Homo sapiens: one gene and its partners. The protein of the gene in region 1 interacts with the protein of each later gene in a pairwise test. Each region holds a gene or a part of one and is shown in the gene's direction. Other genes may lie near its edges.

Region 1 (3,500 bases):
TGATGAGAAAGAGTGGGGCGATGATGAAGAAGGTAAGGAGCTCTTGAGAAATTGTGTTTTGAAACGTCTTAAAGTTAGAGAAGTTGCGAATACAGTATGAAGAACTTTCTTCCCTGAACCGTTACCAGCTTGATACCCATTACCCTTTGATCACTGTTAGGGTGTATGTCTTGCAAACAAGGGGCCCTCTTCTACATGACTAGAATGCAGCCATCAGAGCCGGGGTTAGCAATGAGCTATGGGTTCCCATTTATCCTGATAATGTCCTTTGTAGTGAAAGGATCCGGTTCAGGATGCACTATTGTGTTTAGTTGTCCTGTCTCCTGGATCTCCTTGAGTCTGGAGCACTCCTCAGCTTTTTTTTTTTACTCTGATGACCTGCAGTCTTGTAAGGGGGCAGGCCAGTTGCTGTGTTGTGCCCCTCAGCCTGGGTGTGTCTGATGCTCCCTAAGCATTGGATTCCACTCATGCATCTCGGGCAGGAATAGTGCACAAGTGCTCCTGTGGCCTGCCCATTGAGTCCCATCAGGTGGACTGTGATTCGCTTTGTTCCATCACTGGTGATGACCCTTTTGAGAATTATTTATGCTGATTCTCTACTTATCCCAGGTTTGGCTAGCAAGAGTTCCTTCACACAGGCTTCTATGTCCCTTTGACCTGTCCCCTTGTTCTTTGATCATTTCCTTACCTTCTAGCACACAATACCCAAGGGTCATCTTATACTTTCCATAACTCAGCCCTGGAATCCATCATTTCTCCAAGGTTCCTTTGAGTGATGAGTGGTATTTAGAAGGTGCTAGTTGTGCTCACTGCTGTTGGTTATTGTTCTGAGGCCTGAGTGGTCGAGGGTAGGGAGTGTGTGTGTGTGTGCGTGTGCGTGTGCATGTGTACACATATTTATGACCATATTTACTTGTGTAACTATTTGTATATACTGAAAGTCATGATTTCACACCAATACCTCCAGTTCCGGTCTAACACCACAGGGTTCCCCTTCACACTTGCAATGCCCTTCTCTCTCTTTTTAAAATTTATTTATTCATTTATTTTTGAGACAGAGTCTCGCTTTGTTGCCCAGGCTGGAGTGCAGTGGGGTGATCTTGGCTCACTTCAACCTCCGCTTCCCGGGTTCAAGTGATTCTTGTGCCTCAGCCTCTCAAGTAGCTGGGATTACAGGCATGCACCATCATACCTGGCTAATTTTTTGTATTTTTAGTAGAGATCAGGTTTCGCCATGTTGGCCAGGCTGGTCTTGAACTTGTGGCCTCAAGTGATCTGTCTGCCTCGGCCTCCCAAAGTGCTGGGATTACAGGTGTGAGCCACTGTGCCCAGCTGTGTCACGCCCTTCTCTGACCTTGAGAAACTTGGCTCCCTCTATTCTCAGCATCCTCAGTTACTCCACCCGGCCCCTGTAGGTATGTAATCAACTTCCTGTGCCTGCCTCCCCTTCTCATATGTGCCATCCCCACCCTGTTTGGTCTCCCACACCCGGGGCCAGGCACGGCCCTGCATGGACACCCTTGCTTCTTTCACTCAGGCTTCCAGATCTAGGCTGCTGGGTCCCTGTCACTGCCCCATGCCTGCCTGTCTTCTTCCTTCCATTCAGGCTCTAGCATCCCGCACCACTGCTGCAGCCCCAACCCTGCACAGACCTGCCAGGCTTGGCCCTACTTTTTTTTTTTTTTTTTTTTGAGAGGGAGTCTCGCTCTGTCGCCCAGGCTGGAGTGCAGTTGCGTGATCTCGGCTCACTGCAACCTCCGCCTCCTGGGTTCAAGTGATTCTCTTCCTTCAGCCTTCCAAGTAGCTGGGATTACACTTTGCCAGCCACCATGCCCAGCTAATTTTTGTATTTTAGTAGAGACGGGGTTTCACCATGTTAGCCAGGCTGGTCTTGAACTCCTGACCTCAAGTGATCCTCCCGCCTTGGCCTCCCAAAGTGCTGTTATTACAGGCATGAGACACTGCACCTGGCCTTGGCCCTGCTTTTAATGGTTCTGACTTAGTGGAATTTTCCAGCAGTGTTTCTTTCACCCTTGTAATTTCAGGGACGGGCAGCTCTGGGTCATATTTATTTCAGAGAGTCAGTCAAGGTAAAGAATTGTCTCTGGTGGCTGGGCGCGGTAGCTCATGCCTGTAATCCCAGCACTCTGGGAGGCTGAGGTGGGCGGATCACCTGAGGTCAGGGGTCAAGATCAACCTGGCCAACATGGTGAAAACCTGCCTCTACTAAAAATACAAAAATTAGTTGGCTGTGGTGGCGGGTGCCTGTTTTCCCAGCTACTCGGGAGGCTGAGACAGGAGAATTACTTGAGCCCGGGAGGCAGAGGTTGCAATGAGTAGAGATCATGCCGTTGCACTCCAGCCTGGGAGAGAGAGCAAGACACTGTCTCAAAAACAAAACAAAACAAAAAAAAGAATTGTCTCTGGACTTGAAAGGACTCTGTATACTTTCTTAATACAGATGTGTGAGCCAGAGAGAACTGGGAATGGAGTCATCCATCGTTGAGTTGACCTTGCTTGCACACCTTGTTTGGGCTTTCCTAAATGACTGAGGATGGCTCATTGCTCCACTGGCCTCCCAGTTTGGCAGAATAAGGCAAATGTGATGTGTGACCGCAGTGGTGTGTGATCAGGGCATGGCGTGTGATCAGGACTGTGGGAGATGGCATTGTTAATACTGGTGGAGGCCAAAGAAGGCACTAGTGGGTCAACTTCGTACCAGGAAGACTGTGGGGGAAGAGATGCGGCATCCAGGGGGAAGACCGAGTGACTGTGGCAGCGAGAAGGGAAGGTCTGAGCTACACAGGGAGGAGCCAATGTTAGTACAGCCTGAAGGCACAGCACAGCCTGGCATTTTCTGTGAGCAGCAGATAATTGGGTTTGAACTCAGATGCATTAGAGAGGGGTGGGGCAGTGGTCGAGGAGGCTGGAGTGGTAGGTGGGCCAGTCAGCTGGACCCAGCCCAGGGACACTCTTGAATACAGTAGCAGTGTGCAGGGCTTACGTTGCATTGGAAAGGCAGCGGGTGAACTGATGGGGAGGTCTGTTTGCCGGAGGCTGATGTCTGTTGAGCTTCAGTACTGGCCCTCTGGAGGCAGTGGTGAGGACAGACTGCAGTAGAAGATTGTGGTTAAGCTCTCTTAAGGACACAAGGCCATATTGAAAGTGTTTTAGAAACCACAGATCCTTTGTAGTGCTTTCCAAAATGTGCTCCCTGGGGCACGGGTATCAGTCACTAGGGTGCTTTTCCAGTGCAGATTCTCATGTCCTATCCCAACCCTGCTGATCTGGGCTTTGTAGGAGAGGGGCCCTGGAATTTGCCTTCTGAACTTTGAGATCCACTGACCTTTTGTATAATTAAGAGTGGACAATGGGGATTTATGTTATTACTTCCACTTGATTGAGCCCACTTACCCGAGTGTAATTGGGGCACAGAAAGTCGTGGGACAGGTCAGGCGGATCACAAAAGACTTCTCGGGGTGGTGCTTGCCCCTCCGAGT
Region 2 (3,500 bases), on another chromosome or scaffold:
CCTGGGGCCAAGCATGGGAGAGGGGAGTAGAGGAGATGGAAGGGGAGAGGCCATCAGGGGCACATCATAAGGGCTATGTGGGCAGCAGTGAAGACTTTGAGTGATTTCTAATGGTGGGGGAAGCCAACGAAGAGTTTTGAAGAGTTTTAGCCCAGAGGACATTTTCACTGAGTGATTACAGTTGGCCAGGTGTGGTGCCCGGGTACAGGCATTAAGTGGTAGGAACCCCCAGCCCACACCTTTGTGATCCTTTTGTTCTACAACAGGGCTTCTCAACCTCCACACTACTGACCTTTGGGCCTGATCATTCTTTGTTGTGGGGCCTGTCGCGTGCATCGTACAGTGTGTAGCAGCATCCCCAGTCTCTACCAACTAAACGCCCATAGCACTCCCCTGCCAAATTATGACAGTTTGGCAAATGTCTCTAGACGTTGACAAATGTCTCCGGGGGCAGAATTGTTCCCGATTGAGTTCCAAAGGCTTCTGCCAACTTGGCCTTATATATATGCCCCCCTACAATTAAAATTACTTTTCACTTGTGGAAGTTGGGGCCATTTGGCCTAAGAAAGGCTCTTCTTTGTCTTAGTGGTTCTTACGCTTTAAGACGTGTCAGAATCACCTGGGAAACTTGCTTAGAAATACCGATTCAGGGGCCCTACCCAGGTAGTTTGATTCAGAGGATCTGAGGTGGGGGGCAGGAATATATATTCTGAGTGAGATTTTAATAAGCATCCCCAGTGATTCTGGTACTTTGAGAATTGGTGCACCAGCTACAAGAGCATTGTGTTGGAGAGGATTGAGGCTTTTCTGGGTGATCTTGAAGGGTTGGAGATGTAGAGAGGCATGTTTCTGTTTATAGCAGAAGAAAAACTCATTTCCAGTCAGAGGTGTTGGTGGCACGGGTAGTGAGCCCCCATCACGGGAGAAGCCAGGACTGAGCCAGCATGTCTCAGACTCCAAGAATTTGTCCTCATCTGTGTCATGGATCCTATTTTTTTACTTTGCCATTTACTTGATTTGGCTCACTGATTTTTTTTTTGTTTTTAATTTAAATCAACTTAGTTTAAAAGGGTATTCTGTGTGACTGCTGTAAAAGAAGCTGAGTTTTGCTGTAAGAAGGGAAACAAACTTTAAAACAAATTGAAGTAAAGCCAGGTAGTTCTAATGAGATATTATGGTCACCCTAACTTTGGGGCCTGAACCCTGCTTTTCTTTTTAATTTTAATTTTTAATTTTTCTGGGTGTGTAGTGGGTTTATATATTTATGGAGTACATGAGATATTTTGATACGGGCATACAATGTGTAATAATCACATCAGGATAAATGGGGTATCTGTCACCTCAAGGATTTATCCTTTGTGTTACAAACAATCTGATTACATTTTTAGTGTTTTGTTTTTTTTTTTTTTTGAGATGGAGTCTCGCTCTGTCACCCAGGCTGGAGTGCAGTGTTGCCATCTCAGCTCACTGCAAGCTCCGCCTCCTGGGTTCATGCCATTCTCCTTCCTCAGCCTCCCGAGTAGCTGGGATTACAGGCACCTGCCACCACACCCGGCTAATTTTTTGTATTTTTGGTAGAGACGGGGTTTCACCGTGGTCTTGATCTCCTGACCTCGTGATCCGCCCGCCTCGGCCTCCCAAAGTGCTGGGATTACAGGCATGAGCCACTGCGCCCGGCCAGTTATTTTTAAATGTATCATTAAATTATTATTGATCATAGTCACCCTGTTGTGCTGTCAAATAGTAGGTCTTATTCATTCTTTGTGTGTGTGTTTTTTTGTTTTTTTGGGGTTTGTTTTTTTTTTTTTTTTTTGAGATGGAGTCTCGCTCTGTTGCCAGGCTGGAGTGCAGTGGTGCAATCTTGGCTCACTGCAACCCTCTGTATTTTTTTTTTTTTTTTTTTTTTTGAGACGGAGTCTCGCTCTGTCGCCCAGGTCGGACTGCGGACTGCAGTGGCGCAATCTCGGCTCACTGCAAGCTCCGCTTCCCGGGTTCACGCCATTCTCCTGCCTCAGCCTCCCGAGTAGCTGGGACTACAGGCGCCCGCCACCGCGCCCGGCTAATTTTTTGTATTTTTAGTAGAGACGGGGTTTCACCTTGTTAGCCAGGATGGTCTCGATCTCCTGACCTCATGATCCACCCGCCTCGGCCTCCCAAAGTGCTGGGATTACAGGCGTGAGCCACCGCGCCCGGCCCTCTGTATTTTTTTAATACCAATTAGCCATCCCCACATTCCCCCCACCCTTCCACTACCCTTCCCAGCCTCAGGTTTCTTCATCATTCTAGTCTCTATCTCCATGAGTTTGTTTTAATTTTTAGCTCACACAAGTGAGAACTTGCAAAGTTTGTCTTTCTATGCCTGGCTTATTTCACTTAACATAATGACCTCCAGTTTTATCCATGTTGTTGCAAATCACAGGATCTTATTCTCCTGCTTTTCTTTTGTTTCAAGGGGCGAGTGATGGGTTGCAGGGATGTTAAGATATCTCTCCACTTGAGACTTTATCCTGAGCTTGTCAGGAGAACTGGAGGAGAATTGAATCAAGATGCATTTCTCTAGGCGAATCTGGCTCTGAGAGCCCCTGGGTGGAAGTTCCTTACACTCATATCTGCTAGTTGAACCTCATGGTAACCCCATGAAGTCTGGGGGAAGTGCCCAAAGAGGCCACAGGTGGTTCTGGGGCATCTCAGGGGGCCTCAGTCCAGCACTCACACTCAAGGAGGGATCCGGGCAGGGCCATTGGGAGAAGGCAGGGTGTCCGGTGGCCCTCAGCAGCCTGCGGGAATGTGTGTGAGTGTATGTGTGTTAACCATATCTATAGGAGTGTACATGGGAGTGCATCTGTGAGGCATTGTAGCCTGGAGGCTAAGCTGTGGACCCAGACATACTCTGCCTGACTCCAGTCCCAGCTCTGTAATCTTGAGCAAGTGGTTTAATCTCCTCGGGCCTCAGCCTCCTCATCTGTGAAATGGGTAGGTAGAAGTAGTACCTACCTTCCAGGATGGTTGGAAGATCAAGTGATATACATTCAAGTTCCCTACATGCAGTAAGCCCTCTAAATACTCACTGTTGATGTATGTGTATGTGTGTCTATCTGTCTGTCTCTGCTTGTCTCTCAGTGGGTGTGTGTCTGTCCTGTCTACATTTGTGAGGCCAGCCTAGGCCTGGTCTCTCAGCATGCCTCCCTCTTTCTTCTCCCTACAGCACTGTTGGTCACCGCAGGCCTGTCTTCCTATTCACCGTGGGCAGCAGAGGGATGGCTGCTCAGCTGCTGACTGATGAGGCACTGGTGAGTCATGTTGCCCTGTCACTCTCCTTTCCAAAGGCTGGATCCTGCCTTGGGTGAGCCTCTGCTGCTCGAACCCTCTCCAAGGCCCCCAGTCCCATCTTCTGGGGCTGTGTCTGCCCTGATGAAGAGGGCTGTGCTTATAGATGATGCTGACCCTGGCTGTGGGGTCAGTTGTAGGGGACAGGGAAGCTTTGGAATGGCCAAACTAGC
Region 3 (3,500 bases), on another chromosome or scaffold:
TGAAAGCTTTGGAATGGTGTTCTAGAAATTCACTGACCTGTAAATATGTTATTCAGCAGTTTGGCATTGGCCTTACCTCAATTACCAGACGTCAACATCAGCCAAACCTTGAGGCAAATCATTCATCCTGCTAGTAGTCTTAAAATCAGTGCTATGGGGAAAATGGAATTGCAAAGTTGAAAAAGGAGACTGTTGACATTGGTCCTTAAGACTTCTGAGTTAGAAGATTAAGTAATCTTTTAGTAAATGCAATCAAAAAAGAATATGTAACTAATTATAAGTTATACTATTCTAATTTTTTAAATTGCCTTTCCCCCCATAAGAATTCTATGCAGTTATCATATATTTAAATCTGAATAGTATCTTGGCAAGAACTTAAGTATATAGCATTTTGGTTAATCACTTTTCGATTACAGTCATTAACCTGGACCATTTTGAGGAGGAAAAATCTTCAAATTTTGACTGTTGATCGATTTTTATTGCCAGAAACGACTCTTAAAGAATAAAGAATCAACAAATGGTTTGAGAGTACTTATTTGAGACTTATTAGTATTTCAATTTTTTTATCTCTTTATTTATTCAATGAAAATTCCTGGAGCCCTGCTTTATGCCAAGACTTGAGCTAACTGGGGCCTTAAATGGGAAAATAAAGAAGACTAAGACATTTGCTTGCTCTCAAGAAACTCAGAGTTTAGTGGCTTCTTTTCCTCATTAAAGGGTTCCTTTGTTCCTTTGTTGTTCTTGTTTTCTACTTGGAAAATTCTCCGTATCTTTTTTACTTTTTTTTAAGGTTTTGCTTTTTAACCTCTAAAACTTTAACTAGATCCCGATCTGGAATGCGAGACAAACGCATCTCAGAAGGATAACTGCTGATTTCCCTTCTGTTTTCAGTCTGCTCCCCTGGTTTTTATGGGCATCGCTGCAGCCAGACATGCCCACAGTGCGTTCACAGCAGCGGGCCCTGCCACCACATCACCGGCCTGTGTGACTGCTTGCCTGGCTTCACAGGCGCCCTCTGCAATGAAGGTAAGGCACGAAGCATCCCGGACAGCTGGGTGGTGATGAGCACGCCCCGGAGAGTCTGTCCTCAGGCCTCCCCTTGGCCTTCCTGAAGGCCATGTTTTCAGCTGTCTGCTGGGAATGTCTTCTGCTGTGCTGTGTCTGCAGCTTCTCAGATAGGACTTTGAGCTTTGGAAAAGCTGGCTTGCCACTCCAGCAAAACCTTTTTATTTCCTGAGATGTGCTACTCTTCAGTTTTAGCTGGACATGTCCTCCCATAAAAAATCAATATGCGGAAGAATTTTAGACTCCCAGAGCAAGAAGTCGTGAAGTCATATTTCTAGAAGTGCAATGATGTCCCCTGGTTTGTGATGCCTTAATGCAAATCTTTGGCTTCATGGATTTGTAAAAATGAGCCCATTCAAGATGAAGGATGCTGTTGAGCAGAGATAGCTACCAATGAGCAGCTGGGCCTGTGACCTTTAAAGTTATTTCCTGTGCTAAGATTCTAGGGTTCTGCGAGAGGGGTTTTGATTGTGAGTTACTGACCTATAGCTTATTCACAGTGTGTCCCAGTGGCAGATTTGGGAAAAACTGTGCAGGAATTTGTACCTGCACCAACAACGGAACCTGTAACCCCATTGACAGATCTTGTCAGTGTTACCCCGGTTGGATTGGCAGTGACTGCTCTCAACGTAAGTCTTGTTTGAGAACAATTAATAAACTGTTCTTATTTGTTTGTTTTCAGATTCTTTAGGATTGAAGTATGAGTGTTTTTATATAATCAAGAAAGAATATATGACTAATTAAAAGACACATTCTACTTTAAATTCTTTTTTTAAAATTCTTTTTTTTTTTCCCATTACGACCTCTATGCAATGGTCCTATGTTTAAATCCAAATAATGTCTTGGAAAGAACCTAAATATGTAACATTTTCCTTATCCCCTTTTCAGTGATTCATCGTCCATTGAAATAAAGCAAAAACAGCTGTATTGAGAAATCTATCTCTTCATTTTGTGTTTATCTGGAGAGTTAATTACAGAGAAAGAAAAAATGGAATTAAATGATGTGAGCCTTAGAAACCTATTGGGAACCTGAGCGAACTGCCCACCTAATATGCTTAGCTTCACCTTGGCATCACCCAAGTGCCTTCCACACCACTGGATTTCAGACAGGAATTGTGTGACCCTATAAGGGACTATATAGATGACTCTTAGAGCACCCATGTCATGAAAAAAATGACATCGACTATAAGTCATTCATGAATGTTTTGAAAGGGTCAGTGCAATGTCTAAAAGTATTCAACTTTTGACCAAAAAATAGCATATGTATGGAGTAATCTGGTTTCATTCATTTTAAATTTTATGAAACACTCTCAGTTTATATTGAATTCCCCCATCATGCACATAAGAGAAATCAAAGAATGACTGTGTGCAGTCATTTTACATGGTGCTTTATTGATAATTTAATTCAAACTTCACAGTTACAAGCAACCTGCAAATACTAATTGATGAGCAATATATTTTTTGCTGGAAGATTTTTTTCTGAATGTTAATTTTTTCCATAAGTAGTCCAGGCTGTACCCCATTTTTTAGGAATAAGGGAAGAGAGCTAATAAATCTCAGAAGTGTAGCTCTTTGGTGAAAGAAGTGTTATGCGATATGATTTCACTCCATTCTGGGGGCATCACTTCAGAAGAAATCAGTCTGTTTAAATCTACATGTGTTGCAAGGGCTCTGACTGATGGTTGGGCGTATGGGTTTGGGAAGAGTAAAAGGTCCAATATCATTGTCACAAAATGATTGATTTATATTGCTCCTTTAAAAAGTAGTCTTTATTTTGGAAATTTGTCCCTTCCTCATTTGGAGGAGGAATGTGCTGAAAGGAATAAAAATAGAAACACAACTATGAATGGAGACTATAGTGTTGCCTGTCCCAATAATCACTCCACAGGAAGCTGACTTATTTGGCAAAAGCCTTTGCTTCTCCTGGGGATCATTGATTTCATTGATTCCCTTATGGACTCTGTGGAACCATCTTCATATTTCTTCTTAGCTGATTGTGAGCCTGTCTAAAGAGAGCAAAGTCCTTCACAGTGAAAACACAGACTTTGAAAACTTAAAGGGGTACATTTAAAGGGGCAGGTGTCCTTGGGAAAATGATTTTTTAAAGCACTATCTCTACGTTTACCTTTTGGGAATATAAAGTTGAGTGATGCTTATTCCCATTCTCTGATCATAACAAATATAGGGAGAAAAACCTAATGGCAGTGGGTTACCTCAGAAAAATATATTGTGAACATAAATGGGTTTACAGAAGCTGGTTAAATATCATCTAAGGAATAGGTTGTTTTAGGTAAAGAGTGCTTCACTGAGCATCAAATGGGCTAGACGCTTCAACAGTTTTCACTGAGTCTCACTGTGGCTTTGGGAAAGCTGTATTTGTCTAACAAATAACAAATATTATTATTAATCTATGTGACCTTGTACGAGTCACTATT

What was found.
Region 2: the proteins of SART3 (region 1) and ZNF71 interact in binary tests that used the Homo sapiens proteins (3 or more experiments, as listed by UniProt).
Region 3: the proteins of SART3 (region 1) and MEGF10 interact in a two-hybrid assay, tested with the Homo sapiens proteins (one large-scale study listed by IntAct).

Annotation. Positions count from the first base shown.
Region 1 is NC_000012.12:108,526,674-108,530,173, reverse strand, and holds part of SART3 (spliceosome associated factor 3, U4/U6 recycling protein), read left to right. Parts: coding exon 1-32; intron 33-3,500. UniProt on the Homo sapiens protein: U6 snRNP-binding protein that functions as a recycling factor of the splicing machinery. Promotes the initial reassembly of U4 and U6 snRNPs following their ejection from the spliceosome during its maturation.
Region 2 is NC_000019.10:56,598,302-56,601,801, forward strand, and holds part of ZNF71 (endothelial zinc finger protein induced by tumor necrosis factor alpha), read left to right. Parts: intron 1-3,205; 5' UTR 3,206-3,257; coding exon 3,258-3,290; intron 3,291-3,500. UniProt on the Homo sapiens protein: May be involved in transcriptional regulation.
Region 3 is NC_000005.10:127,433,796-127,437,295, forward strand, and holds part of MEGF10 (multiple epidermal growth factor-like domains protein 10 isoform a precursor), read left to right. Parts: intron 1-891; coding exon 892-1,026; intron 1,027-1,565; coding exon 1,566-1,694; intron 1,695-3,500. UniProt on the Homo sapiens protein: Membrane receptor involved in phagocytosis by macrophages and astrocytes of apoptotic cells. Receptor for C1q, an eat-me signal, that binds phosphatidylserine expressed on the surface of apoptotic cells. Cooperates with ABCA1 within the process of engulfment.